Linked DNA regions of Homo sapiens. The protein of the gene in region 2 interacts with the protein of the main gene of each other region in a pairwise test. Each region holds a gene or a part of one and is shown on either strand. Other genes may lie near its edges.

Region 1 (8,507 bases), on a different chromosome or scaffold from region 2:
TTGCTGTAGGGACTTTGTACAGTGTAGGGTGCTTAGTGGATCCCTGGTCTCCACCTGCCAGATGCCAGTAGCCTGCCCCCCTCCCCAGTTGTAACAGCAAAAACTAGACCTGGCCAAATATCCCAGGGAGGGGGCACAAAGTTGCCCCTGATTGAGAACCACTGACGTGCAAAAATAAAACCTATATTATCTCTTGGCTTATACCCCAAGATATTGTGCCCAAATATCTTCAACTTTATCTCCTAAAACTATAACTCACACAGACTCTGGAATCTCTTATAGTTCTACAAAAGATTTACTCTTTCCAAGTATACCCCACCTTTGATGACTCCCAGACTAAAGTGCCCCATTTTTCTACTTTTTGTCCCCATTTTCTACTGGAATACCTTTTTGTCCTTATCCTTCCAAACTAATCTCAGATAATTTCTCCTGTTGTAAAATCTTCCCTGTCAACACTAAAGATAATTTGTCCTTCTTCCTTATGGATCCTACATCACTTACTATCTATTGTAGCACTTGTCACTGTAATTTCTTCTTTTCACAAATGTTTTAACCTGACCACTACTACCACCTACTTACAACTTTTTGAGTTTAGAAAAGAGATTCTATATACTTAGCATGTAGTACAATGCCCAACACATACTAGGAGTCTTGACAGCTATTAGATAGACGAATAAGGGAATGACTGAATGAGTGAATGAATGAATGACGTCACATCCTTCTCTCCCCGGCATGGAAATATGTTGCATGTTCTGCATGCAGAGTGAGTTGCCGGCTTCATGTCAAGAGGGAATCCCCCTTTAAGAAGAGAATCTGAGCTGCTGTTCCTGAAACTTCCTGAAATCCCACCTGTTCCTGAAACTTGCTCTATTGAGACTTGAGTTTCAACTTGATGCTAGAGAAAGTTGTTAAAATTTATTTTTTTAATTCATTGATGGATGCATCTCTAATGTCCCAGTCATAAAAATAATCTTATATTTAACAAATCCCAGTTATAAATATTTTGCGTGGGGCTCTGCTTAGCATCTTGATGTAAAATTTATACCTAAGTCTATTTTGGCAAACATCAAATTAAACTTGTAAGTATAAAGGAAATCAGAGTGTCCTTGACCTCCCAAGGCTTAGATGATCAGCAGTTTTTAAATGACATTCCTTGAAAGCGAACTTTGATTTTTTAAGCACTGGGCCTGAGGCTGTAATCAAAGGCACTGATGATATTTAGATGATTTAGAAGAGCACAAGCTGATCTGCCATCATTCAGCTTGCAGGATACATTTATCTTCTGTAAGCAGTATGAAACACCTTTGTTTTTGTATTGATTCTATTCCTTTAGAAAATTATAGGTTTTGTCTTGTTATGTTGCCTACAGTCAAAAGAAACGATTATGGAATTTACAATTACAGGAAGGAGGTCATTAAAGCGGGCCAGGTTGGTTTTATCGAGGCTCTGCTTTACTTCTATTGGAACAATTTTATGCACGCAACAGCACATCAAATAGAATGCACCAGAGGATGATTTTAGGAACTTAGTTAAAAGCCCTCTCAGGATTTTGCATACATTTTAAATAATACTCAGCTAAACACATAATCACATGTTTCTCATATACTTTCAAAAATCCCATATGGTTAGAAATTGCTGCCAGATTTCCCTGTGTTGATAAACAGAATGACATTTAATTAAACAGTCCTGAAAAATACTTTCTTTCTTGACTTTATACTCAGACAAGTTAATAAAGTCCCCATTTCAGATGACGAAATGACACATTGCCTGCTCCTATTCCAGTTTTCTGCCTCAAATGTCTTCCTGGAGAGACTCCATGTATGCCAGCCTTCTCAAGGATTTAAGAGTATTAAACCAAGGTTAGATGGTAGCTAGTGTTCTTTGATCTCACTGTACACATTGTTATTCATTTTTTTCTTCTTCTTTTCTTTTCTTTTTTTTTAGATATGGCGGTCTCACTATGTTGGCCAGGTTGGTCTTGAACTCCTGGCCTCAAGCAATCCTCCCACCTCAGCCTCCAAAGTGTTAGGATTACAGGTGTGAGTCACCACACCTGGCCTGGTTGGTATTGATTTTTAAAAAGTGATTTGTTACTTGTTGTCCATGAAACTTGGTGTGCTCTAAATAGGTTGTTTGTTTCACTACATGACATTCCATATACTTACCATCAATTCCAATTAATAGGAATTCCAATAGAATGGCTGAAACAAATTGAGTAGAACAATTACTAACTCCTTTAGACATTATTATGTTAGGCTGAACTATTTTCTACACTGGCTCTATCTATGGGTCATTGCATCTGGCTATTTAGATGGCAAGGAAATGTAATTGAACCAAAAATCCTAGTCATTGAGCAACGGGCTGTTTTTGTTTTGCTTTTTACCTGCCAGCTGGTTCCTCATCTTTGAGGTTTGCCCTGACAGCTCTGAAGCTTGGGTAATATACAACAATATAGACAAAGTAAGGAAATAATTAGGTTGTATGATAGTAATACATTCCCATCCTGAAAACCACAGTTTTAAAATATTCCTATTGTTTCCCCTGTCCTCTGCTCATTTGACAGTTACCAGGAGCTTTGGGCAGACGGGGAGAGAAGTGCATATGTTGTCATCTGACGCTCTGCTGCCTCCATAGCCCATGTTAGCAATTAGCATGGTGTAGATTAAGTACAACTACACAATAGTCATCAATTCCCAATGTTATCGATACATTAGAAAGGGGCTCTGATTTCCAATTAAGTACTGAATAATTGAAAGAAAAATGTGTTGTTGCAGGTTGTTGAGAAACACCTCTACCTCCATTTACCCTTTCATTAAGAAACAGGGATAAAAAATATTGCGATATCAGGATATCTAGAATTTGGAAGATGTGGAATCATCCTGATGAGTCCAAGGACAATCCAGAAAATCAGCTGTGATTCAGACTCCGGTGTGCCCCGTGGAGGCCATGGGTCATCCAGGAGCCTTGTATACCTGGAGGATGAGGAGCCACCTGGGGGGAATTCATTCTAAGGTAAAAAAATGTCATCCTGGCATAGTGACTTCGACCCAGTTCAAAAGCCCGCGTTGTTGAAGAGGAGCCGAATTCTAGGCATGGTGTGTTTACAGTGAGTGCTGTGTTTCCCAGATTTTCCATCCACAAGGATCTGAACTTTTTAGGAAGAGAGAGAGAGAGAGAGAGAGAGAGAACTCAGAATAACAGCTGAATGAGCCACTCTTTGAGAGTGCAGTAGTAGGTTAGCTCAGCAGGTCTGTGTTGTCCAAACCCTGCACTTTCCAAAGAAAGGTCTGTTCTTTGACAGCCTTCCAGGGGATAACCTCTAAACCCTTGGAATATCCTGCCTGATCATAACGTGTTTGTTTACCTGGAGCTTTGAGTCATGCTAGACAGTTAATGCTGATGATTTATAGTGGGGGCTTTGGGCCACCTGTATCAGTCTTGACCTCTGGAGGGGCTGGTGACTAATTTCGGTCATGCAGACAGTCGGCCATGCCTACATGCTCCCAAAACCACACTGGATGTCAGGCTTGGGGGAGCTCCCTGGGCAGCAATGTTCTGTGCAGGTTTCCTCACATCACTGCTGGGAGAATTAAACATCATTTGGTTCCATTTCCCAGCTGCTGAAAAACTGTAATGTTGGGAAGAAATTAATAATTCAGCTTAAATCCAAAGGAAGAATGTTGATTGTGTAGATTTTGTAGAATTTTTTTTAAAATGTTGAGGGAAGAAGGGAAGACCAACTATGTAGAAAAGGGAGCCTTTATTATGAACACACAACTCTTTAAAACAAGTGAAGTAATACCCATGTAGAATAAAAGCAAAGAAAAAAGAAACAATTCAGATAATCATCACATAAGAACACTTATATGTTTTATTTTATCTTATTTTATTTATTTTATTTTATTTTGAGACAGAGTCTCCTTGTGTCACCCAGGCTGGAGGGCCATGGTGCGATCTTGGCTCACTGCAACCTCCGCCTCCTGGGTTCAAACGATTCTCGCGCCTCAGCCACCCAAGTATCTGGGATTACAGGCGTGGTGCCACCCAGTTTTTTTTGTAATTTTGGTAGAGACGGGGTTTCACCATGTTGGCCAGGGTGGTCTCGAACTCCTGGCCTCCAGTGATCTGCCCGTCTCAGCCTCCCAAGGTGCTGAGATTACAGGCATGAGCCACTGCACCCAGCCACTTACATGAAACATCTGACTGCATTGCTGAATTCAAAATATCTGAATATGTTATACAGAAAAATGTTTTGGAAATCTAATGAAAATTAATAACGAAATACAATGTTCTACTTACAGTCATTGTTGACTTATCTTAATAATTTGTTTGTTTTGTAATGTGACAAAATAGATCTATATTGTTCATCTTGTCAAAAATATTTATGTGCAGAACTGTATTTTAAAACAAGCAAGTACAAAAGGAAATAAATTAAAGTACACGAATATTTTATTACCTCTCAAAATAGCCTGACTTGAAAAGACCATCACTCCATGGCCAATGGATCTACTTGATCCTGAAATAACCGAGAGTGGGGTGTATCTGTTACTATCAGCAGGTCAACCTTACAGCAACAAGAAGAAAGGCCTTTGACAACCTGATGGTCACTCCTGGGATTTCTATGGCTAACTTAAGTGGCAAGAACTAGCAGGAAACTAGTTGACTTTTTTTGAAGAAAGAAATGACAAAAGTTTCTCAATCAGTACCTTTTAGTCATCATTTCTTGGAAACAACTATACATCATACAGTTGATGCCTTTAAAGACACGACTTTGGGTATGGGCTCAGTGGCTCATGCCTGTAATCCCAGCACTTTGGGAGGCTGAGGCAGGTGGATCACTTTGATGTCAGGACTTCGAGACCAGCCTGGCCAACATGACGAAACCCCGTCTCTACTAAAAATACAAAAATTAGCCGAGAATGGTGGCACGCACCTGTAATCCCAGCTCCTTGGGAGGCTGAGGTGGGAGAATCGCTTGAACCCGAGAGGTGGAGGTTGCAGTGAGCCAAGATCTTGCCACTGCACTCCAGCCTGGGCGACAGAGAGAGACTCCGTCTCCAAAACAAACAAACAAGCAAGCAAAAAACATAAAAGCACAATCCATTGATAAAAAGGGTGCAGCTGGACATGGTGGAAACACACAGGGCATGGGAGGGAGCCTGGGCTCCACCTGCAAGGCGAAGGCCATTCTAGCCAAAGGGGCAGGGGTGGCTGGAAGGAGCTCGGGGGCGAGGTCCTAGGCCCCGTCCACTTGGCTTCCATCCCGAGTCCTTGCATCCCTCCCCAGGAGGAGGCGCTGAAAACTTCTGGGGACAGAGGCCCCAAAGAACCACCACCCACCCCAGTCCACAGCAAATATGGGTGGTCCCTTACGGAAAGAGGGAAGGCGTGTCAGCAGGGGTCGTGGCCCCCAAGGTCCTTCACCCGCATGCGCATGCGCACTTAGCTGACCAATCAGAGAGGAGCGTGGATAGCCAGGGCAGCTGCTCTCGCGAGAACTGAGGACCCATTTTTCTAAGAGAGCGTCGTGGTGCCAGTGCCTGCAGGTTCTGTGAGGAAGCGGCATCAGGGGTCCCTCAGGTGAAGCGCTCGCGGTGGGGAGGCAGGAAGTCGAGCATGCGGCCCTCTCGCAACCAGGGTGTGAAGCGCAGGTGAAGCGCTCGCGGTAGGGAGGCAGGAAGTCGAGCATGCTGCCCTCTCGCAACCAGGGTGTGAAGCGCTGAGCGGCCGGCTGACCTGCACACGGGCAGCCCGAGACCCCTGGCCCCTTCTTGGCTTTGGAGTCCACCATGCACGTGCTAAGAGGCCCCAGGTTTTCAAAGCAGGAAATGGCCCTGGCATCGTTGCCTGGGGCCTGGGTCAGGGCGAGGCCCTGAGGGTGGGCTGGGATGGGCCAGGGCAGGGAGGGAGCTGGAGACACCTGAGTGATCCCCAGGGCCCAGGAGTGTCCCCGGGACTTGTGCATGTGTGCAGTGGGTAGGGGTGGGGCAGGGGAGGGGGGCTTGGGGGAATGGAGGGGGTGGAGAGGGGAGCAAGGGAGGGGTGGTGGCAGAGGGTGGAGGGTCGGGGAAGTGGCAGACAGGCAGGGGCCGGGTGTGGGGCCAGGGATGGGGGCAGGGGAGGGGAGGGGTGTGGGGTTCGTGGGGTGAGGGGATGGGGGAAGGGGAGGAGGAGGGGCGGAGTGTGTGGGGAGGCGACAAGCAGGGGTGTTGTGGGGGACAGTTCGAGTGGGTCCCTCCAGCCCGGCCGCCCGTCAGGACAGGACACTTGGGGTCACGAGGGGTCACCTGGGCATCCAGGCAGGCAAGTGGCAGTGCAGCCCCTGACATTCCCCCAGAGATGGCTGGGGAGGTCCTGTGACACCCGTGGTCCTCCGGGCCACGCAGGTCTCTGGGGCACACAGGGGCAGGGCTGAACTCTGTCCCAGGGACACCGCAAGGATCCTGCAGGGGCCATTCAGGTGTGCGAGGCAGCTGTGAGTTCTGCAGCCAGCCCCAGGGACGGGCTGGACGGGCCACGAAGGATAGGAGGGGACACTGGCATCTTCTCCGACCCCTCCTGCTCCCACAGGATACACGGGGTGGGCCAGCCCCACCCTTTCTTGAATCCGAGATCCCGTTGGCTCTCCTTTCACATATCCTGTTTCCTTAGCTTACTTAGTTTGACTTTGCACTCAACCAGGTTCAGGGATCGCCTCTAACTTCCCAGGACAGCCAACCATGGAGCCCGTGGGCAGGAAGCGCAGCAGGAAGGCTGCCAAAGCTCAGTTGGAAGCTCAAGTTACGGCCGCCCAGGGGGCCACGAAAGAAGGTGCACGCCCAAGGAGATGGTCTGTTTGCTCTCTGCGCGGGGGGCACATGGGCAGCCCGAGACCCCTGGCCCCTTTGTGGCTTTGGAGTCCACCATGCACGTGCTAAGAGGCCCCAGGTTTTCAAAGCAGGAAATGGCCCTGGCATCGTTGCCTGGGGCCTGGGTCAGGGCGAGGCCCTGAGGGTGGGCTGGGATGGGCCAGGGCAGGGAGGGAGCTGGAGACACCTGAGTGATCCCCAGGGCCCGGGATTGTCCCGGGGACTTGTGGATGTGTGCAGTGGGGAGGGGTGGGGCAGGGGAGGGGGGCTTGGGGGAATGGAGGTGGTGGAGAGGGGAGCAAGGGAGGGGTGGTGGCAGAGGGGGGAGGGTCGGGGGAGTGGCAGATAGGCAGGGGCCGGGTGTGGGGCCAGGGATGGGGGCAGGGGAGGGGAGGGGTGTGGGGTTCGTGGGGTGAGGGGATGGGGGAAGGGGAGGAGGAGGGGCGGAGTGTGTGGGGAGGCGACAAGCAGGGGTGTTGTGGGGGACAGTTCGAGTGGGTCCCTCCAGCCCGGCCGCCGGTCAGGACAGGACACCTGGGGTCACGAGGGGTCACCTGGGCATCCAGGCAGGCAAGTGGCAGTGCAGCCCCTGACATTCTCCCAGAGATGGCTGGGGAGGTCCTGTGGCACCCGTGGTCCTCCGGGCCACGCAGGTCTCTGGGGCACACAGGGGCAGGGCTGAGCTCTGTCCCAGGGACACCGCAAGGATCCTGCAGGGGCCATTCAGGTGTGCGAGGCAGCTGTGAGTTCTGCAGCCAGCCCCAGGGAGGGGCTGGACGGGCCAGGAAGGATAGGAGGGGACACTGGCATCTTCTCCATCCCCTCCTGCTCCCACAGGATACACGGGGTGGGCCAGCCCCACCCTTTCTTGAATCCGAGATCCCGTTGGCTCTCCTTTCACATATCCTGTTTCCTTAGCTTACTTAGTTTGACTTTGCACTCAACCAGGTTCAGGGATCGCCTCTAACTTCCCAGGACAGCCAACCATGGAGCCCGTGGGCAGGAAGCGCAGCAGGAAGGCTGCCAAAGCTCAGTTGGAAGCTCAAGTTAGGGCCGCCCCGGCGAAGAAGCACACAGGTAAACACAGCCCAAGGGGCCAGAAAAGAAGGTGCACGCCCAAGAGGACGGTCTGTCTGCTCTTTGCGCGGGAGGCACATGGGCAGCCCGAGACCCCTGGCCCCTTCGTGGCTTTGGAGTCCATTGTGCATGTGCCAAGAGGCCCCAGGTTTTCAAAGCAGGATCGAGGGCCTTAGGCTTCCCGTGGGAGGCTCCCCCTCATAGCAGGGTTACAGATGCTCGCAGAGCAGCTCTTCTCCATGGATGCGGTCCTGACATCCAAGGGGTCTGACTTGTGAGCGTTGTTTACTAGGACTTGAACCGGAAGGGCTTCCAAAAATGCCTCGGTAAAACGGTCCGGAGCCCAGTGATTCCATGCATAGCTCTGCTTTAAAGCTTTAATTGGTAGAGAGCCAAAAAAGTCCACAAATAATAAGTTTCTCTACAAAAGATGTCCACAACAGCGTCTTCCTCTAAAAATGGTTTGTCTTTTACATTTTAATGCAGGAAAGGATCCAGTCCGTGATGAATGTGAGGAAAGAAACCCTTTTACAGAAACAAGGGAGGAAGATGTAACTGATGAGCATGGGGAAAGAGAACCTT
Region 2 (7,848 bases):
TGACTTTATCAGACAGATCTCACCAGTCTGGAAGTGTAAGAAACACTAGCAAAACAGGTATGATAGAGTGAGGTAAGTTCTAAGGTACTAGAGCATCACTAAAGATGGTTTCCAAACTATTTTAGATACTCAGGGAGCAAGTGAGGAAGCTGGTGAGCACAACAAGAGTGGTTAAGACAAAATTCCATTTATGTTGAAGGGTAAGGGTAGTTGACAGAAGGGTAGATACAGGCAGGGTTTGAGAAAAGAATTTCCGAGTTGTAAGGGAGTATGGACATATTTAGTCTTGTTTGAAGAGGAGTGAGTGCAGTTGTAAGTGCCTGATGTTACTTTGGGACAGCTCTATCCAATAAAAATGTGAATGCCACAAATGCGATTTTAATTTCCTATTTATTTTAGTAATTTAACCCAATATAACCAGATATTATTTTAACACATCAATATTTTTAAAAATTGCTAATATTTGTGGTATTAAATCTTCAAGATCATTGTGTATTTTGTACTTAACAGCACATCACAACTCAGACTAGCTACATTTCATGTACCGAGAAGCTACGTTTGGTCAGTGGCTACCTTATTGAACAGTGCAGGTATAGGAATTGTGGGAACAGAATATAGGGTTACAGTTTCTTTTAGGCACATTTGTGTATAGCAGCGGTCCCCAACCTTTTTGGCACCAGGGACCGGTTTAGTGGAAGACAGTTTTTCTTGGTGGGGTGGGGTGGGGAGTTGGTATCATCAGGCATTAGATTCTCATAAGGACCACACAACCTAGATTCCTGGCATGCTCAGTTCACAATACGGTTTGCAGTCCTATGAGAATCTGATGCCGCCACTGATCTGACAGGAGGTGGAGCTGGGGCGGTAATGCTTGTTCCACCACTCACTTCTTGCTGTGTGGCTTGGTTCCGGTTCCGTGGCTGGGGGTTGGGATCCCCTGGTGTATAGGATTAAACTCCCTGAGGATTGGGTTGGAAGCAGGAAGTGTGGAAATTGAAACTAGATATGGGTTTGAATCCTAGGTCTCCAAACTACTTTGGGAAAATTATACATCCTCCTCTTAAGGCCCCTTGTTTTTTAAAAGTAAATAAAAATACCTAGAACACATTAGGCACTATTTTTAAAGACAGAAAGTATATATTTAAGGAAACATGCATATACATTCTTTAGCCTCATCATTTGAGGTAGATATCCAGTAATTTAAGTTAACTTTTACCTTTTTTTTTTTAAAGCTAAAAATTAGGTTCTATCTTAAAGGGTAGGAAATAGAACCTTAGGAAGATAATGTGCAGTTTCAAAAGTTATTTTCTCTAAAGGACAAAATATTTTTTTGCCTAGAGGCAGTTGTTACTTTGCCCAAATAGCAAATATTCTTTGTGCCCAAACAGGTTTGGGATAACATTGGTAGAAGAGTTTTAACTATGTCAAAGTTTTTGTGTGTTTTCATGTTAGACGCTTATTTCTCATGTACTCGAGATGACTTTCCAAATATAATTTTTCTCCCTAGATATTTTTAGATGAATTACATGAACATGGACAACTGCATTCTATGTCATCTTGGATGGAATTGTATCCAACTATTAGTTCTGATATTAGATTCACTAATATGCTTGGTCAGCCTGGTAAGATTATTTTCTTTCCTAATTTACCGTTATGGTAGTAGTTGAAATGGGCCAAATGCAAAGGTGATTGTGTTGGGGGAAAGGGTGCTTTATTTTTGTTTTTTAAACAACAAAGTAATTGCAGCTCTTTGGTTAGAGCTAGCTTTTGACTTCTTTAGTTTTTTCATTAGGATCAACTGCACTTGATCTTTTCAAGTTTTATGTTGAGGATCTTAAAGCACGTTATCATGACGAGAAGAAGATAATAAAAGACATTCTAAAGGTAAATATATTTATTCTTACCTTTTAACCAATAGTATATCTTAAAAGTTAGTACTGTATTCCTTTGATTTATGCATTATTAATGTTAAGATTTCTTTTTTTTAGGATAAAGGATTTGTAGTTGAAGTAAACACTACTTTTGAAGATTTTGTGGCGATAATCAGTTCAACTAAAAGATCAACTACATTAGATGCTGGAAATATCAAATTGGCTTTCAATAGTGTAAGTTATGTTTTCTGTTGTAAGTAACTAGTTTAGTAGTATAGTTTTTAATTTATTCAGATAAAAGCAGCTAAGTTGCAGAGTGTTGGAATAAGGGAATATGAATAGAATTTTACAGAGTGGTAGCCAGTCTTTCAGGTAAGGTAAAACAAAAAACTTTATTTAGATGATGGATTGATATTAAACTTCCTTTGCTCAAATTAACTGGTATTATACATAAAATGGCCATTATAAATCAGGCCTTGGGCCACACATAAAGTACACTAACGATAGCTGATGAGCTTAAAAAAAAAATTGCAAAAAATCCTTATAGTGTTTTAAGAAAGTTTACAAATTTGTGTTGGGCCACATTCAAAGCGGTCCTGGGCCACAGGTTGGACAAGCTCGTTTTAAACAATGCGTGATTCCTAAATTAACAATAAATTATTTCAGCTAATAGTTATGATACTATTATAACTGATTAAATATGATTTTCTTAATAGTTACTAGAAAAGGCAGAAGCCCGTGAACGTGAAAGAGAAAAAGAAGAGGCTCGGAAGATGAAACGAAAAGAATCTGCATTTAAGAGTATGTTAAAACAAGCTGCTCCTCCGATAGAATTGGATGCTGTCTGGGAAGATGTATGTATACTTGTTATTTTTTTCTAATGGAATTCTTTTCTTTACAGTTGAGAAATTTAAAATATTTTTATTTTTCATTTTATAGCCACAAAAATAAGCTAAATTTATTTGTAGAATATATTAAATATATTTAGAATATAATAAAAGCATTAAATCAGCTGTTGACTCTGTTTAGGAATATTTGTAAAGAATGGTTTGGACTTTTGAAGGGAGGAAATAATGGACTTTAAGGGGACTGATTCATCACAGTTTTCACTTGCTGTTATGATTTATTTTAGATGTATCGTTGTACTTTTCTTGGTATTCATATATTTATTTTGTATCTGAATTTTTCAGATCCGTGAGAGATTTGTAAAAGAGCCAGCATTTGAGGACATAACTCTAGAATCTGAAAGAAAACGAATATTTAAAGATTTTATGCATGTGCTTGAGGTAATTTTAGAATTCTCATATACAAAATATATAAAATATAAACAAATTGAAGAACTTAGAATGATGAAAGTATGTTGCTTAATATTCACTGCTTTTATACAAATGTACTTACCTGGATGGTTAGAGAATGGTTTTTTTCCTATAAAAACTGCTTTTAAGTAAAAGAAACTATTAAGTTTCCATGGGAATATAAAGATTTGTATGTGAAGACTGTTTTGTATTTTTAGAAAGTTTTAGAAATTGAGCAGTTTGGCAGCCACATGGATTGATTGACTAATAAAGAAAACTTGAAATTTTTCTTGTAAAGCAGATAGAAGACAGCTTTTAGGCACATTTGAGGTATTATACCACATTAGCTGTGTAGAAAAGAAAGTTTCTGGAAAGTAATGGAATAAATGGTAAGTTTTTGTTAAAATAAGCAATGAAACAATAACATCTCAGGTCACTTTAATAGGTAAGGTTCACTGGGCACGGTGGCTCACGCCTGTAAAACAAGCACTTTGGGAGGCCAAGGTGTGTGCTGATCACCTGAGGTCAGGAGTTTGAAACCAGCCTGGCCAACATGGCGAAATCCTGTCTCTACTAAAAATACAAAAAAATTATCAGGGAGTGGTGGCGGGCACCTGTAATCCCAGCCACTCAGGAGGCTGAGGCAAGAGAATTGCTTGAACCCAGGAGGCGGAGGTTGCAGTGAGCCAAGATCATGCCACTGCACTCCAGCCTGGGCAACAGAGCGGGACTCCTTCCCCAAAAAAAAAAAAAAAAAAAAAGTATTTTGATGACAGTTTCAGTTAGGCCCTTGTAAGTATGCTGAATTGACCAATAATTATTGAATAATAGTATTCGATGCCTATGTGGGCCAGTGTTCTAATTGCTTTATGTATATTATATTTATGAACTGAATCCTTTCAATAAGCCTGTGAAGTTAATAGGTGAACAAACTAAGGCAGAGAGAAGTAAAGTGACTTACAGGGTTGGAAGCCGGGCATGTTGACCTTGGTCAGTGCTTTTAACAAGTATGCCATGCTGTCAGTTTTAGAGTAGCTAATACTTTATAAGCTAAAAACTAGTAGGTGCTTAATATTACAGTGTTGCATTGTAAATGGGCATAGGTCACTAAATTGACTATTTCCTATTTCTTGATTTATTGTTCTTGATTAATATAATGTTAACCACAGTTTTTTCTGTACCATGTACTCACGAAGGCCCTGTATTGTTTCACAGCTGCCTCTAGATGTGGTCCTGTTGGCCTTTTTTTTTTTTTTTTTAAAGCGGGGTCTCTGTCATCCATCCACTCCTAGGCCAGAGTGCAGCGGTGCAGTTATGGGTCACTGCAACCTTGAACTGTTGGATTCAAACAATCCTCCTAAGTAGCTGGAACTGCAGGCACGTGCCATCACACTTGGCTTTTTGTGGGGCTTTTTTGGTTTTTGTTTTTATAAAGATGGGATCTTGCTGTGTTGGGCAAGCTGACCTCAAGCAAGTCTCCTGCCTTGGCCTCCTGAAGTACTGTGATTATAGGTGTGAGCAACCATGCTGGGCCTCTAGATCTTTTCTGTGCCAAATGTAGTGCATACCAGAAGCATCTGCATTACCTAGGAGCTTCTTAGGAATGCAGAACCTTAGGCCCCATGGGGCAGAAATCCTGCGTCTGACTTCATTTTAACCAGATTCCCAAGCATTAAAATATACATTTAATTTTGAGAAGCTCTGCTCTAGATAGTGACTAACCTATTTTCCCCCAGTTCAAGAGTCTACAGATTCTTTCATGATCTATACTGGGGGTAAAGTAGTTAGGTGGTAAATGGAGTAAAAATGGTACCATAGGGAAGGGCTGAACACATTCAGATTTTGGGGCCTTAATAATCTGAGGCTTGAGGTATTAAAGAAAGGTAGGTTAGCATTCAGTGAGATCAAAAGGAGAATAGTCCATTCTGAGATCCAGATTTTCCATTTCCACTTCTGTAACTGAGGTAGAATTTATTCTCAAAGCCATAGAAATGTTTAGGGGCAAGGAGCTTGTACTGTAGCACCCCCCATCACTGCTAACCTAGTAATTGTTTTAATAAGTAGAAATCCACAAAGACAGCATATGGATGTCTAACAATGTCTTGTTTGAGGAGGAAGGAAATGGCTCCTTGGGGGAAATGAAAGAGGGGTAGCAGATTTTGCATTTATTCTGACATCAGCCTTATATATCTCAATTCAAGGATGGCTCTCAGGTTGTTCTTTATCTTAGTGCTTGGCCTAACTTGCTGACCAAAGCCAGATTGATTACAAAAACCATGTCTGAGTGTCATTGTATTTGACTGTCATTAAAAGCAGATGTCACTGCATATTACACTTTTCTTCTAAATCACACCATTCTCTTCCTTAAAAAATACTTTTTCAGGCTGGGCACAGTGGCTCACGCCTGTAATCCCAGCATTTGGGAGGCCGAGGTGGGCGGATCACAAGGTCAGGAGATCGAGACCATCCTGGCTAACATGGTGAAACCCCATCTCTACTAAAAATACAAAAAATTAGCCGGGCATGGTGGCAGGCGCCTGTAGTCCCAGCTACTCGGGAGGCTGAGGCAGGAGAATGGCGTGAACCCGGGAGGCGGAGCTTGCAGTGAGCTTAGATCACGCCACTGCACTCCAGCCTGGGTGACAGAGTGAGACTCCATCTCAAAAAAACAAACAAACAAAAACTTTTTCAGCTGGGTGCAGTGGCTCATGGCTGTAATCCCAGCACTTTGAGAGGCCAAGGCGGGTGGATCACCTGAGGTCAGGAGTTTGAGACCAGGCTGGCCAACACGGTGAAACCCTGCCTCTACCAAAAATGCAAAAATTAGCTGGGCGTGGTGGTGTGCACCTGTAATCCCAGCTACTTGGGAGGCTGAGGCAGGAGAATTGCTTGAACCTGGGAAGCGGAGGTTGCATTGAGCCAAAATCGCACCACTGCACTCCAACCAGGGTGACAGAGCGAGACTTCGTCTCAAAAAAAAACAAAAACAAAAAAAGCCCTACTTTTTCTACTAACAGTTTTTAACATTGTTTTGTTTAGATGTCTAAATGAGTGGGTATAGGATGGGCAAGAAGGAAAAGAAAAAAAAATTGACAATTCTTCACAGTTTCAAGGGATTACATTTCTATATATTGTAGAGTTTTACTCTAAGAACTTACTTCCGTAGCTTTTTAAAGATTCTTTACAGTCTGTCTACAGTAAGTGTAAATTCTTGAAATTTTTTTTTTGTCCCCGTAGCATGAATGTCAGCATCATCATTCAAAGAACAAGAAACATTCTAAGAAATCTAAAAAACATCATAGGAAACGTTCCCGCTCTCGATCGGTAAGGGAATTTATTATATGGTGTCATGAGTGTATTAAAGTGTTAGCATTATTATGAATGAAATTATTTGTGTTTTTTAGGGGTCAGATTCAGATGATGATGATAGCCATTCAAAGAAAAAAAGACAGCGATCAGAGTCTCGTTCTGCTTCAGAACATTCTTCTAGTGCAGAGTCTGGTGAGCATTTCTATTTATTTGATTAAATCATTGACACTGATATACTCAAAGTCTGACACTTTTTATCCTTTTGTGCTACTCAGAGAGAAGTTATAAAAAGTCAAAAAAGCATAAGAAGAAAAGTAAGAAGAGGAGACATAAATCTGTAAGCAAGCTTCTAATTTTTACGTTTCACCTAGGCTTTTGCCCTTAACTTCCTCAGAGATCATAGAACCTTTTTCTATCTAGTTCTCTGCAGCCCAGGACAGTTCAGGTGGGCACATAAACTTAGAGTTTTGTTGTTGCTCTTCACCTTAATCTTCCATTAAAATCAATTGTTGAGCTTTGAAAAAATACACACACCAGTGTTAGGATCCCCATCCTGGTCTTTAAAATTAATATTCTAGAAAGAGACTCGTGTGTGTGCATGTGTCTCTGTGTATGTATGTATGTTTGTGTGTATGTGTAGATTGCAGCTGTTGTTGAGAACCACAAGTTTAAATGTTAAAACAACCACTCTACTCTTGCAGTTCTTATTCTTAGGTGTACATTAAGATCCACCTAAGGAACTTTTTGAAAATCTGAAGGCCTGGGTATCACCACAGACCTGTTGAATTACATTCTTTTTATTTGAATTTGTGCATATCTAATGAATAACCATTTAAGCACTAACGTTAAATTTTAAATAATTCCTACTCAGCAATTTCAAGAAAATAATTTTATTAATACAGCTGTCTGCCTTATGTGTTAAAGCTAACAGCAGTATACTATGTACATATATAAACCAATATTATATTGAGTTGGTGAGAAATGTAGTATCTGTCTGTATTTACATAATAGATACTACACATCTATTATGTGGTAGTAAGTCTCATGAGTGGTATTTTATCCTTCAGAATATTATCCTTCCCAAGGGAAAGCTGTCCCCATGAATCTTGGGTAAATTTTACTAAATCCTTGAGGTTAACAATTCACATTTTATTTCATCTCTCTAAGAGCACATAACCTGTTACACATAGATGTTCTTAAATATTACCTATATAACAATGGTATCTTCATCAAAATGCTAACCTGTTATTTTCTATTCATACAGGACTCTCCAGAATCCGATGCTGAGCGAGAGAAGGATAAAAAAGAAAAAGATCGGGAAAGTGAAAAAGACAGAACTAGACAAAGATCAGAATCAAAACACAAATCGCCTA
Region 3 (5,927 bases), on a different chromosome or scaffold from region 2:
TTTTGGAATTGCAAATTGTACTGCTATAAATGTGTGTGCAAACATCTTTCTCATGTAATGACTTATTTTCCTCTCAGTAGATACCCAGTAGTGGGATTGCTGGAGCAAATGGTAGTTCTACTTTTAATTCCCTAATGAATCTCCACACATTTTTCCACAGTGGTTGTAATAGTTTACATTCACACCAGCAGTATAAAAGAATTCCCTTTTCAGTGCATACTTGCCAACATCTATTATTTTTTGACTTTTAATTATGGCCATTCTTGCAGGTGTAAGATGGTCTCATTGTGGACTTAATTTTCATTTCCATGATCATTAGTGATGTTGAGCATATTTTCATGTTCATTGGCCATTTGTATATCTTCTTTTGAGAATTGTCTATTTATATCCTTTGCCCACTTTTTGATGGGATTCTTTGTTTTTTTCTTGCTGATTTGTTTGAGTTCCTCATAGATTCTGGATATCAGTCATTTGTCAGATGCATAGGTTGCAAATATTTTCTCCCACTCTGTGGATTGTCTTTTTACTCTGCTATTTCTTTTGCTGTGCAGAAGCCTTTTAGTTTAGTTACTTCTCATCTATTTATTTTTGTTTTTGTTACATTTGCTTTTGGGTTCTTGGTTATGAACTCTTTGCCTAAGCCAACGTCTAGAATTGTTTTTCTGATGTTATCTTGTAGAATTTTTATGGTTTCAGGTCTTAGATTTAAGTCTTTGATTCCTGTTGGGTTGGTTTTTGTATAAGGTGAGAGATGAGGATCTGGTTTTATTCTTCTACATGTGGCTTGCCGATTATCCCAGCACCATTTGTTGCATGGGGTGTCCTTTCCCCACTTTGTTTTTGCTTGTTTTGTTGAAGATCCAATTGAACTGTAAGCATTAGACTTTCTTTCAGTGTTCTCTATTCTATTCCACTGGTCTACATGCCTATTTTTATATCAGAACCATGCTGTTTTGGTAACTATAGCTTTGTAGCATAATTTGAAGTCAGGTAATGTGATGCCTCCAGATTTGTTCTTTTTGCTTAGTCTTGCTTTTGCTATGTGGACTCTTTTTTGGTGCCATATAAATTTTAGGGTTATTTTTTCTAGTTCTGCGAAGAATGATGATGGTATTTTGATGGGAATTGCATTGATGTAGATTGCTTTTGTCAGTATGGTCATTTTCACAATATTGATTCTACCTATCCATGAACATGGGATGTGTTTCCATTTGTTTGTTTCATCTATGATTTCTTTCAGCAGTGTTTTGTGGTTTTCCTTGTAGAGATCTTTCACCTCCTTGTCTAGGTATATTGCTAAGTATTTTATTTTATTTTGCAGCTGTTGTCGGAGGGATTGAGGTTTTGATTTGATTCTCAGCTTGGTCACTCTTGCTGTATAGCAGTACTAATTTGTGTACATTGGTTTTGTATCCTGAAACTTAATGGAATTCATTTATCAAATCTAGAAGCTTTTTGGATGAGTCTTTAGGGTTTTCTAGGTATACAGTCATTTTTCTGTGAAAAATGACATGGGAATTTTGATAGGGTTTTCGTTGAATCTGTAGATCACTTTGGGTAGTGTGGACATTTTAAAAATATGATTTTTTCAATCCATGAACACAAGCTATCTTTCCATTTATTTGTGTCTTTTCCAATTTCCTTCATCAGCATTTTATAGATATCAGTATAGAAATCTTTCATCTCCTTGATAACATTTATTATCAAGTATTTTTTGTAGCTATTGTAAATGGGAGTGTTTTCTTGATTTCTTTATAGGATAATTTGTTGTTAGTGTATGGAAATGCTACTGATTTTTGTATTCTGAAAATTTACTGAATTCTTTTATTTGTTCTGATCATTTTTTGGTGGCATCTTTAAGGTTTTCTATATATAAGTTCACATTGTGGGCAAACCGTGACAATTTAATTTCTTATTTTCCAGTTTGGATTCTTTTTATTTCTTTTTTCTTCCCTAATTGCTCTGGCTAGGACTTCCATATTGGATAGAAGTGGTGAAATGGGCATCCTTGTTTTGTTCCTGATCTTAGATGAAAAGCTTTCAATGTTTCACCATTGAGCATGGAGTTAGCTCTAGGTTTTTTATATATGGTCTTTGCTGTGGTGAGGTACATTCCTTCTATACCTAGTTGGTTAAGAGGTTTTTTTAAATTACAGAATGTTGAATTTTGTAAAATGCTTTTTCTGTATCCGTTAATATGAGCATATAGTTTTGCCCTTCATTTTATTAATGTGGTATATCACAATTATTGATTTTCACATGTTATACTATGCTTGCATCCCAAGGATAAATCCCACTTATTATGATGAATGATCTTTTTTTTTCTTTTTTTTTTTTTTTGAGACATGGTTTCACTCTTGTTACCCAGGTTGGAGTGCAATGGCGCTATCTTGGCACCCTGCAACCTCCACCTCCCGGGTTCAAGCGATTCTCTTACTTCAGCCTCCCGAGTAGCTGGGATTACAGGTGCCTGCCACCATTTCTGGCTAATTTTCTGTATTTTTAGTAGAGACGGGGTGTCACCATGTTGGCCAGGTTGGTCTTGCACCCCTGACCTCAGGTGATCCACCTGCCTTGGCCTCCCAAAGTGCTGGGATTACAGGCGTGAGCCACTACACTGGGCCGAATGATCCTTTTAATGTGCTGTTGAATTTGGTTTGCTAGCATTTTGTTGAGAATTTTTGCATCTAGTTTCAACAGTGATATTGGCCTGTAACTTTCTTTTTTTTTGTAGTGTCCTTGACTGACTTCATGATCAGGGTAATGTTGACCTCATGAAATGAGTTTGGAAGTATTTCCTCCTCTTCAATTTTTTTGGAAGAGTCTGAGAAGGATTGGTATACTCTTGTATTTGTGAGTGATATCTTTAATCAACTTTGAAAAAACTATAATTGTTTATCTCTTCAAATATTGCTTATCTTATTTTTCTCTCCTTTCTCTTTGTGGGACTTATAAATTTGCTAGACCTTTTGACAGTTTCGGATATATCTCTTATCTTCTGTTTTTACCTTTTTTTTTTTTATTGAGTTTGAGTTCGGACTTTTGCTACCATCCTGTCTTCCTATTGACTAGTCCTGTTTTCTGCTATGCTCTGTCTGCTGTTAAATATTATCAAATAAGTTCTTATTACCACCTACTGTATTTTTCAGTTAAGGAATGCCCACACAATTTTTATCCCTCAATTTTAGTTTTTCTAAGGCTGTAAGAGAATAAGGACATCTTCATCTTTTCATCTATTTTATTATTATTTTTTGTTTTTAAATATATTACAGTTAAAGTCCCTCTTTGATAACTACAATATCTGAAGCACTTGTCAGTCTTTTTCTCTGATCTGATTTTTCTCCTGTTTTCTAGTAATTCATTCTGATTTTTATTCTGTCTCGTAATTTTTTATTGTATCATGGATTACAAATTGTAGAGACTTTGATAGATATTACATTTCTCCAAAAAGGGCTATATTTACTTCTGACAGGTAGTTAGAGTACCACCCATTGCTTTTATTCTTTTGAAGTTTTTTTATCCTTTTCTAGGTATAATAGTTTTTAATTTTGCCGTTACTACTAGGTCATGGCTTTTCTATTGCTGTAATGTCGCTGGTGTTTACCAAGATCCCTCCACTCTTTTGGGACTGGAATTCCAGTCTGTGTTTCCTGAGCACCATGAGGCTGAAGAAACTTACATTCAGCTCTTTAGTCTCCCAGTTGATATTTTCTTCTGTGTTTCCAGCATCTGACCTGTATTAGCCAATGAGTTGAGGGAAATTTGTATGTAGACTTTGGCTTCTTCTCTGCAGCTTCATTTTCTCTGAGATTTTACTTCTCATATTCCAGCTCTTCTTACTTCTTTTCCTCAGCCTAATAAGACTGATGATTTCTCCTTGGGTTCTATTTACCCATGCCATGATATAGAAAATCTACTTAGGGAAAAAGCAGGGGTGAATGTGAAGCTACTTTCTGTGTTTCACCTCTATCAAAGACTGTGGCACTTCAAATACTGCTTTTATTGGTGCTTTCTAGTTCTTTAAATTATTGTTTGAATATATTTTATACAACTTTTACAGTGTTTTTGATGGGAAGATTGGTTTTTTACAAGCTACTTTGCCATGGCTTAAATGGGAACTTCCTAGTGTTTTATAATTTATTATTATTATTTCCTTATTCAGGGCTATCAGGAAGGATAACGTATACTCCAGAAAACCTTTGCAGAAAACTGTTCTTACAACATGAAGGACTTAAGCAATTAATATGTGAAGAAATGGACTCTGTCAGAAAGGGCTCACTGATCTTCTCTAGGAGCTGGTCTGTGGATCTGGGCTTGCAAGAGAACCACAAAGTCCTCTGTGATGCTCTTCTGATTTCCCAGGACAGTCCTCCAGTCCTATACACCTTCCACATGGTACAGGATGAGGAGTTTAAAGGCTATTCTACACAAACTGCCCTAACCTTAAAGCAGAAGCTGGCAAAAATTGGTGGTTACACTAAAAAAGTGTGTGTCATGACAAAGATCTTCTACTTGAGCCCTGAAGGCATGACAAGCTGCCAGTATGATTTAAGGTCGCAAGTAATTTACCCTGAATCCTACTATTTTACAAGAAGGAAATACTTGCTGAAAGCCCTTTTTAAAGCCTTAAAGAGACTCAAGTCTCTGAGAGACCAGTTTTCCTTTGCAGAAAATCTATACCAGATAATCGGTATAGATTGCTTTCAGAAGAATGATAAAAAGATGTTTAAATCTTGTCGAAGGCTCACCTGATGGAAAATGGACTGGGCTACTGAGATATTTTTCATTATATATTTGATAACATTCTCTAATTCTGTGAAAATATTTCTTTGAAAACTTTGCAAGTTAAGCAACTTAATGTGATGTTGGATAATTGGGTTTTGTCTATTTTCACTTCTCCCTAAATAATCTTCACAGATATTGTTTGAGGGATATTAGGAAAATTAATTTGTTAACTCGTCTGTGCACAGTATTATTTACTCTGTCTGTAGTTCCTGAATAAATTTTCTTCCATGCTTGAACTGGGAAAATTGCAACACTTTTATTCTTAATGACAACAGTGAAAATCTCCCAGCATATACCTAGAAAACAATTATAACTTACAAAAGATTATCCTTGATGAAACTCAGAATTTCCACAGTGGGAATGAATAAGAAGGCAAAACTCATTTTCTCAAAACAAAACTCCAGGAATTCTCTGGATCTTCTTGAGCTACTTTCACACTATTTACTTGGAAGGGTTGTGGATTTCCTAACTGGTCAGCTAGCACCTTTAAAGAACTCACAAGAATGGTTACTTTATTTTTCTACAAGCAGTTCTGAATAAAGAAGCGTGAGATGACAAAATATGGAAAATCCTCTCTAACTAAGATTTGAAGGAAAGCAGCCAAGGTATAAGTAGAAACTCTTTTAGACAACGAGAGTTTTCATCAACAAGAGGAAGGAGCACCAGGGTCTGGCATTTCCCACTCATCTAAGATGAGCTAAGGGACCAAGATGAAGCTCAGCAGAGTGGGATACACCCTTGGCTGGGTGTTCTGAATTCATGCCTAAGACCTTCAGTGGGATCTTGGAACAGAGAATAGAGCCTAAATTACCCATCAGGGCCTCAGCCTTCTCCACCACTGTGTCCAATGCCAGAGGAAGTCGATCAATGCATTCAGTATTCTGAGAAAAGTTTTACTAACACATATTTTGCCAAACGAGATGATGTTTGACTATAAAGGAAATAGGCAGACATTCTTATCAAAGGATATAGGGAACGGAACGTAGTTCTCTTCTACCTTCTTGAAAACTATGTTACAATGAAATCCAGCCAATGAAGAGATGAATCAAAATGAAGAACCTAAAACGAGAGCATACTTGCACTCCTGGAGTCTCTCTCCAGCCCTGAACTGTGGCCAGCACAGTGTGTCAGCCTGTACCAGC
Region 4 (8,701 bases), on a different chromosome or scaffold from region 2:
ACCTGTAATCCGAGCACTTTGAGGGGCCAAGGCGGGTGGATCAGGAGGTCAGGAAATTGAGACCATCCTGGTTAACATGGTGAAACCCTGTCTCTACTAAAAATACAAAAAATTAGCCGGGCTTGGTGGCGGGCGCCTGTAGTCCCAGCTACTTGGGAGCCTAAGGCAGGAGAATGGTGTGAACCCGGGAGGCAGAGCTTGCAGTGAGCAGAGATCCAGCCACCGCACTCCAGTCTGGGTGACAGAGCGAGACTCCGTCTCAAAAAAAAAAAAAAAAAAAAAAAAAAAAAAAAAGAAAGAATTAGGAGTCCTAGAATTGGGAGGGGATGCAGAGGGAAGGAAAGAAGAGAAAGAGTAGAAAATGTCAAAAACAAAGACCTGCTGGGCGCAGTGGCTCATGCCTGTAATCCCAGCACTTTGGGAGGCAGAGGTGGGTGGATCACCTGAGGTCAGGAGTTCGAGACCAGCCTGGCCCACATGGCAAAACCCTGTCTGTACTAAAAATACAAAAATTAGCCGGGTGTGGTGGCGCATACCTGTAATCCCAGCTACTCAGGAGGCTGAGGCAGGAGAATTGCTTGAACCTGGAAAGCGGAGGTTGCAGTGAGCTGAGATCCCACCGCTGCACTCCAGCCTCACTTCCAGACGAAGTGAGACTCTCTCAAAAACAAAACAAAACAAAAAAACCCCAAAACAAACAGAAACCAAAGACCTTAAAGACACATAACTCAAGGTTCAAACCCTGGGGCTGGCAATTTCTGGCTGTGTGACCTGGGGCAAGTTACTCTGCCTCTCTGATCCTTAGTTTCCTGATCCAGAAAACAGAAATCACAGTTGGTTTACCTTGGCAGGCTGAGGTGGGCGGATCACTTTAGGTCAGGAGTTTGAGAGCAGCCTGGTCAACATGGAGAAACCTCATCTCTACTAAAAATACAAAAATTAGCTGGGTGTGGTGGCACGCGCCTGTAGTCCCAGCTACTCGGGAGGCTGAGGCAGGAGAATGGCGTGAACCCGGGAGGCGGAGCTTTCAGTAAGCTGAGATCGCGCCACTGCACTCCAGCCTGGGTGACAGAGCAAGACTCCGACTCAAATAATAATAATAAGAAGAAGTAAATAAATAAATAGCGCCACGTGCTGTGGCTCACGCCTGTAATCCCAACACTTTGGGAGGCAGAGGCGGGTGGATCTCGAGGTCAGGAGTTCAAGATCAGCCTGGCCAACATGGTGAAACCCCATCTCTACTAAAAATTCAAAAAATTAGCCAGGCGTGGTGGTGGGCTCCTGTAATCCCAGCTACTTGGGAGGCTGAGGCAGAGAATTGCTGGAAACCGGGAGGCAGAGGTTGCAGTGAGCCGAGATCGTACGGCTACACTCTAGCCTGGGCGACAGAGCAGAACTCCATCTCGAAAATAAATAAATAAATAAATAATAAAAGAAAATGGGAATCAGGCTGCTGAATAATGTAATGAAATAGCCCAGAAAACAGCAGCTATCTCATTTTTGGTTTTGAGACAGGGTCTTGCTCTGCTACCCAGGCTGCAGTGCAGTGGTGCAATCTTGGCTCACTGCAACCTCCACCCCTCCAGTCTCAAGCGATCCTTCCACCTCAGCCTGTGGAGAAGCTGGGATTACAGGCATGCGTCACCATACCCGGTTAATTTTGTATTTTTGGTAGAGACAGGATTTTGCCATATTGGCCAGGCTGGTCTTGAACTCCTGAGCTCAAGTGATCTGTCCGCCTTGGCTTCCCAAAGTGCTGGGATTACCGGTGTGAGCCACCGGCCAACAGTAGCTATTTCTTTTTTTCTTTTCTTTTCTTTTTTTTTTTTTTTGAAACAGAGTTTCACTCTTGTTGCCCAGGCTGGAGTGCAATGGCACAATCTGGCTCACTGCAACATCTGCCTCCCAGGTTCAAGTGATTCTCCTGCCTCAGCCTCCTGACTAGCTGGGATTACAGGCATGCGCCACCGCACCTGGCTAATTTTGTATTTTTAGTAGGGACGGGGTTTCTCCATGTTGGTCAGGCTGGTCTCAAACTCCCGACCTCAGGTGATCCGCCCACCTCGGCCTCCCAAAGTGCTGGGATTATAGGCGTGAGCCACTGCGCCCAGCCAACAGTAGCTATTTCTTACCTCTCACCCTAGGGCTGTGGGAGGCCAGGCGGGGACTCCTGGGCAGATGTTGCCATCAAGAAGAACCAAAAGCCTGGGAGATGACTCTGTCTCAAAAAAAAAAAACAACAAAAAACGGTGTGGGGCAAAATCACCAGGGCTCATCCCCTAGACCAGAGCTATTTTGTTACTCAAGGCCACTAAGAAGTTAAGGGTTAACAGGCAAATCTCCCACTGACCTTGAATCTTGGATGAGTCACTTCCCCTCTCTGAGCCATCCCAGCCCTCCCCTCCTCCCTCTCTCTCACTCACTGTACTCCAGCCACTGGGGCCTCCTCACTGTTCTAACAGGCAGGGTGTGGTCCTGCCTCAGGGCCTTTGCACGGACTGTGCCTGCTGCCTGGAATGCTGTTCCCCCTAACTGGACATGGTTCCCTCCTGGCCTCTCTCTCTTCTCTTCTTGGATGTCACTCAGAAAGGCCTCCTCTGACCTCCCTACTAAAAACTGCGGCCCCACCGGGTGTGGTGGCTCATGCCTATAACCCAGCACCTTGAGAGGCCAGGGCTGGTGGATCACATGAGGTCAGGAGTTCGAGACCAGCCTGGCCAACATGGTGAAGCCCCGTCTCTACTAAAAAAAAAAAAAATACAAAAATTGGCCAGGCATGGTGGCACAGGCCTGTAATCCCAGCCACTTGGGAGGTCGAGGAACAAGAATTTCTTGAACCTGGGAGGCGGAGGTTGCAGTGAGCCGAGATCGTGCCACTGCACTCCAGCCTGGGTGACAGAGTGAGACTCTTTGACAAAAAACAAGAACAAAATCCCCGCATCCCCCACATTCATCTCGTCCTTTGCTGTCCTACCACGTGACACATTGTAAAGTTCTCTCACTTATGTTGTTCCTTGTTCGTCTCTCCCACTGGGTAGTGTGTGTCACCAGGGCTGGAATTCTTATCTGTTTAGCTCACCGCTGTCCCCAGCGCAAGGACTCAATAAATATGGTTGAATGAGTGAATGAGAAGGAAAAAGCCTGTTACAAATGTCATGGAATGGGGTCTCAGATTCACTTGAGAATCTCACTAGCTGCCTGAAGTTACTTAAATTTAAACATTCAGGCCAAGCGCGGTAGCTCACACCTGTAATCCCAGCACTTTAGGAGGCCGAGGCAGGTGGATCACTTGAGGCCAGGAGTTCGAGACCAGCCTGGCCAATATGGTTAGTCCTCGTCTCTACTAAAAATACAAAAATTAGCTGGGTGTGGTGGCGCGCGCCTGTAATCCCAGCTACTTGGGAGGCTGAGGCAGGAGAACCGCTTGAACCCGGGAGGTGGAGGTTGTAGTGAGTCGAGATCGCGCCATTGCACTCCAGCCTGGGAGACAGAGCGAGACTCTGCCTCAAAAAAAAAAAAAAAATTTAAACATTCAGCTTCTCACTGTGCATTAGCCACGTGGTGCTTTTGGCTACAATGTTGGATGGCACACAATTCTAGAATTGCAGAAAGTTCTATTGGACAGTGCTAGCATAGACCCTGTCCCCACTCACCCCCCCAAAAAAATGCAGTCACAGACACCCAATTTTTCCCATGTTCTTTCTAAAGCTACCAGAAGCTTCATTCTATTCAAATAATTTGGCAGAGGTGGCAAACTGGTGGCCCCTGGGCTGGACAAAGCCCCAGTTGGGTTTCATTTGGTCCAATTGTTCCCTAACAGGCAGGACATGTCTACAGCTTGAACTTCCTGTGGATCTGTGACTCTCCAGGTGGGTCTCCCATAGGGCACTGCTCTCCCCTGCCCCTCTAAGCAGGGCATCACTGCCACCTCCTCAGCAGAAATATTCACCTCCTCCCTGGACCATCTGAGATTGAGACCTTGGTTTATAGACCAAGAGGATAAATAATTTGGGAGGTGGAGAGGGGCGGGGTAAAATCCAAGTGGGGGCAGCTTCAGGAAAAGGTTGATCCAGCAGTCACAGAGCCTGGAGCCTGACCCCTCCATTGCCCCTGGCTGACCCTCTCCAGGCCTCAGTTTCCTTCTCTGCAAAATAGGGATGATTAAAAAGACAATACAGTGCTGGGAGGATGAAGTGGTCTGATGTTGGGCAGATCAGGCCGGAGGCTGGACAAGTTCCCGTGGTGGTTCAAGTCACTCATATAGCTGGGTTGGGCCGGGTGCGGTGGCTCATACCTGTGATCCCAGCAATTTGGGAGGCCCAAGCGGGCAGATCACTTGAGGTCAGGAGTTCAAGACCAACATGGTGAAACCCCGTCTCTGCTAAAAATACAAAAAATTAGCCGGGCGTGGTGGCACGTGTCTGTAATCCCAGCTACTCAGGAGGCTGAGGCAGGAGAATCGCTTGAATCCAGGAGGTGGAGGCTGCAGTGAGCCAAGGTCGCGTCACTGCACTCCAGCCTTAGCGACAGAGCGAGACTGTGTCTCAAAAAAAAAAAAAAAGTGTGTGTGTGTGTGTGTGTGTGTGTGTGTACATATAGCTGAGTCGGAGCCCATGGTGGAGGGCGTGGCCCCTGACGCGCTGGCGAGGGTCACCCTGCAACTCTCCCAGGGTTCTCGCAGCCTCAGTTTGGCCATAGGGGAAATGGGCGACCTGGGGAATCCCAGCACCTGTGCGGCGCCCCCGATCGCACTCACCTCCCAGGGCCAACTTCACAGGGTCCCCAGCTGCGGAGCGGGGGTCCCGTGGCTGGGACAGGCGTGGTCCAAGAGTGCTCCCTCCCCTTCAGGGGCAGGGCGTGGAGTCCTTCCCGGACTTCATGACTTGGCGAGGGGCGGGGCCTAGTGGAGGCGGGGCAGGGAGGAGAGGGGCGGGCCTGGCGCGGGCAATCCCTCAACCTGATTGGTCCCCTCGCCCGTCACTCCAGTGCGCCCCCAACCTACCACGCAGTAAAAGCCACCCCCGCCTCGGCCCGGACGGTTTCCAAGCTGGTTTTGAAGTCGCGGCAGCTGTTCCTGGGACGTCCGGTTGACCGCGGTGAGTGGCGGGGGCGTCTCAGTTGAGCTGGGGGGCGGTGTCCATGGAGTCCTGGGGCACCCCAGGGGCCGGAGGGGTCGGGGAGGGCCTTTCTCGGGGTGGGATTTGCTGGACTCTGCGGCCTGGGGAGGGGTCTTCAGCCCAGGCTGGTCACCCCTCCCCCCAGAAAAATCCAACTTCTGCAACGAAGCTCAGACTTTGAAACCCTCTTCTCACTTCCTGGGACTTTTGAGGGGCGAAAGAGCCCCGTAGAAGGGGTGATATTGAAGGGGGTGGGCTAAATACCGCCCCCCGCCCACCAGGTTTTCTCTAAATTTTGAACAGTTTGCTTTTGGAAACGCCATTTGCAGGCAAGTTTCCTCCTGCGGGCAGAATCTCCGCCCTCCCTTCTGGGGTTTTCAGAGACACCCCCCGCCACCGCAAAGCCCCCTCCCCTACAGATGGTTTTGCCACGGGTGGGGGTGGGGGTTGCCCCAGCTCCTGGCGCCCCCAACTGATTCTGGGGAGGTCTTGGGCAAAGCCTGCCCACTTCCCTCGGGTGGGCGTGGCGACGAGGTGGCTTAAAAGTAGGAAGGCCTATCCGTTAACTGCTTTGGGGTTCTTGTCCCGGCTAGGCCTGGCAGTGGGACCTGGGGCCCTTGGAATTTTGGAAGTCCAGTCTTAGCATGCTCTGAAGTTGCTGGATGGCTGGGTCTGGCCTGGAGCTCCCCTTCTGGAGCCAGCGGCAAGGCAGGTCACTGACCCCCAGGGGTTTCATAGGGTGTTGACATCTGCCATGGCCACCCTTGCTTAAACCAGTTCCAGGAAGTCATGGTGGACAGAGGGGACGGGAGGAAGCTGCCTGAGTCCTAAGTGGGACTTGAGAATCGGTCGAGGCCAGGAGTTTGATGCCTGCCTACCTGGCCCCCTGCCCAGGTGAGCTCAGGCTCCAAAGGAGGTGAGGAGAAGCACAGATTTAGGCAATGATCACTGGGAGGTAGGTATGTCTTCTCACCTGACTTCCCAGTTGGGGGACTTTTGTACCTAGCAGGAAGCTGGTTCCTGGCTGGCTTTACCCCTTTGTCCGTGGAAGCCAGAGTGCGGTGAGATAGTTTATGGAGCACTTACTATGTGCCGGGCACGGATCTGAGCTTCCCCGGAGCAGCGTCTCCTCCAGTCCACAGGGACTCCAGGCTCTTGTGAAACACTTATACACATTTCACAGATGTGGCAAGCAAGACTCCTAGGGGATGCTGCCTTCCCAAACTCCTATTCCTAGTGAGTTGCCAAGCTGGGATTAGAACCCATTCTGGGCTGGGCAGGATGACTCACGCCTATAATCCCAGCACTTTGGGAGGCTGAGGTGGGCGGATCATTTGAGGTCAGGAGTTGGAGAACAGCCTGGCCAACATGGTGAAACCCCACCTCTACTAAAAATATAAAAATTAGCCGGACGTGGTGGCGGGCACCTGTATTCCCAGATACTCTGGAGGCTGAGGCAGGAGAATCGCTTGAACCTGGGAGATGGAGGTTACACTGAACTGAGATCACGCCACTGCATTCCAGCCTGGGCGACAGAGCAAGACTCTGTCTCAAAAAAAAAAAAAGGCCGGGCATGGTGGCTCACGCCTGTAATCCCAGCATTTTCGGAGGCCGAGGCGGGCGGATCATGAGGTCAGGAGATCGAGACGATCCTGGCTAACATGGTGAAATCCCATCTCTACTAAAAATACAAACAATTAGCCAGGCGTGGTGGCGGGCGCCTGTGGTCCCAGCTACTCGGGAGGCTGAGGCAGGAGAATGGCGTGAACCGGGGAGGCAGAGCTTGCAGTGAGCTGAGATCGCGCCACTGCACTCCAGCGTGGGCGACAGGGCGAGACTCCGTCTCAAAAAAAAAAACAAAAAAAAAAAAATGGAAAGAACCCAATCTGGACTCCAGATCTAGTGCTTGCAAAACATCATCATTTTGCTGGGTTCTGCTTAGGGGACATCGAAGCAAGGCCACCAGGAGGTGGGGCCTCATTCCTCTGGGAAAAGATGCTCAGACTCAAGGCCACAGGTTCTTAGGCTCACACCAGAATTCCCCAGGAAAGCAGCCCATAAGACAGGCATGACCTTTAGCCCCATGTTTTTTTTTTTTTGAAACGGAGTCTCCCTCTGTCACCCGGGCTGGAGTGCAGTGGTGCGATCTCGACTCACTGCAACCTCCACCTCCCAGGTTCAAGCAATTCTCCTGCCTCAGCCTCCTGTGTAGCTGGGACTACAGGTGTCAGCCAAAATACACGGCTAATTTTTGTATTTTTAGTAGAGATGGGGTTTCACCATGTTGGTCAGGCTGGTCTCAAACTCCCGACCTTAGGTGATCTGCCCGCCTCAGCCTCCCAAAGTGCTGGGATTACAGGCGTGAGCTACCATGCCTGGCTTTTTCTTTTTTCTTTGAGATGGAGTCTTCCTCTGTCACCCAGGCTGGAGTGTAGTGGCGCAGTCTTGGCTTACTGCAACCTCCGCCTCCCAGGTTGAAGCAATTCCCCTGCCTCAGTCTCCCAAGTAGCTGGGACTACAGGCGCCCGCCACCACACCCGCACCTAATTTTTGTATTTTTAGTAGAGACAGTGTTTCAGTATGTTGGCCAGGCTGCTCTTGAACTCCTGACCTCATGATCCACCCACCTCAGCCTCCCAGCGTGCTGGGATTACAGGTGTGAGCCACCATGCCCGACCCTTTAGCCTCATATTACAGGTAAGATGACCGAGGCCAGAGGAGGGGAAGGCGCCTTGCTCCAGGGAGCATAGCGTAGGTGGAGCTGGGACTCCTGGCTTCCCCCTGAGAATCTCTTCTGATGATGGTGTCCCAGCTTCATTTCACTAGTCCAGGAAAAGGGAGTTGTGGCTTCATCCCGCTTACATAGACTCACCTGGGGAACCCCGTCCTCCCCACACCCCTGACCTGGACTTCATAGCTCTGCGGTGCAGGCAGGCATGTTATCTCACTTTTTAAAAAAAGCCTAAATTTTGGCTGGGTGCGGTGGCTCACAGCTGTAATCCTAGCAGTTTGGGAGGCCAAGGTGGGCAGATCCCTTGAGCTCAGGAGTTCAAGACCAACCTGGGCAACATGGCAAAACCCCATCTACTAAAAAACAAACAAACAAAACAACAACAACAACAAAAAAAAAAACAAACCACGGCTGAGTGCAGTGACTCATCCTGTAATCCCAGCACTTTGGGAGGCTGAGGCGGGTGGATCACGAGGTCAGGTGTTCAAGACCAGCCTGACCAACATAGTGAAACCCCATCTCTACTAAAAATACAAAAAATTAGCCAGACGTGGTGCACACCTGTAATCCCAGCTACTCAGGAGGCTGAGGCAGGAGAATCGCTTGAACCCAGAAGGCGGAGGTTACAGTGAGCCGAAATCACGCCACTGCACCCCAGCCTGGATGACAGAGCAAGACTCCCTGTCCAAAAAAAAAAAACAAAACCACACACACACACACACACACACACACACACACACACACACACACACACACACTAGCCAGGTGTGGTGGTGCGTGCCTGTAGTCCCAGCTACTTGCAGGGTCAAGGTGGGAGAATTGCTTGAGCGTAGGAGACAGAGGTTGCAGTGAG

Evidence for each region.
Region 1: the proteins of PRPF40A (region 2) and FAM9A interact in binary tests that used the Homo sapiens proteins (3 or more experiments, as listed by UniProt).
Region 3: the proteins of PRPF40A (region 2) and SLFN12 interact in binary tests that used the Homo sapiens proteins (3 or more experiments, as listed by UniProt).
Region 4: the proteins of PRPF40A (region 2) and PLIN3 interact in binary tests that used the Homo sapiens proteins (3 or more experiments, as listed by UniProt).

What each region holds. Positions count from the first base shown.
Region 1 is NC_000023.11:8,798,384-8,806,890, reverse strand, and holds the start of FAM9A (protein FAM9A), read left to right. Parts: upstream 1-5,507; 5' UTR 5,508-5,580; exon of another isoform or gene 5,581-5,651; intron 5,652-6,681; 5' UTR 6,682-6,719; coding exon 6,720-6,810; intron 6,811-7,796; coding exon 7,797-7,925; intron 7,926-8,411; coding exon 8,412-8,507.
Region 2 is NC_000002.12:152,657,912-152,665,759, reverse strand, and holds part of PRPF40A (pre-mRNA-processing factor 40 homolog A), read left to right. Parts: intron 1-1,507; coding exon 1,508-1,622; intron 1,623-1,780; coding exon of another isoform or gene 1,781-1,792; coding exon 1,793-1,884; intron 1,885-1,988; coding exon 1,989-2,105; intron 2,106-2,587; coding exon 2,588-2,725; intron 2,726-3,061; coding exon 3,062-3,157; intron 3,158-6,403; coding exon 6,404-6,490; intron 6,491-6,570; coding exon 6,571-6,667; intron 6,668-6,750; coding exon 6,751-6,812; intron 6,813-7,739; coding exon 7,740-7,848.
Region 3 is NC_000017.11:35,410,163-35,416,089, reverse strand, and holds the end of SLFN12 (ribonuclease SLFN12), read left to right. Parts: intron 1-4,162; coding exon 4,163-4,752; 3' UTR 4,753-5,168; downstream 5,169-5,927. UniProt on the Homo sapiens protein: Ribonuclease which is part of an E2/17beta-estradiol-induced pro-apoptotic signaling pathway.
Region 4 is NC_000019.10:4,864,004-4,872,704, reverse strand, and holds the start of PLIN3 (perilipin-3), read left to right. Parts: upstream 1-5,037; 5' UTR 5,038-5,096; intron 5,097-8,701. UniProt on the Homo sapiens protein: Structural component of lipid droplets, which is required for the formation and maintenance of lipid storage droplets. Required for the transport of mannose 6-phosphate receptors (MPR) from endosomes to the trans-Golgi network.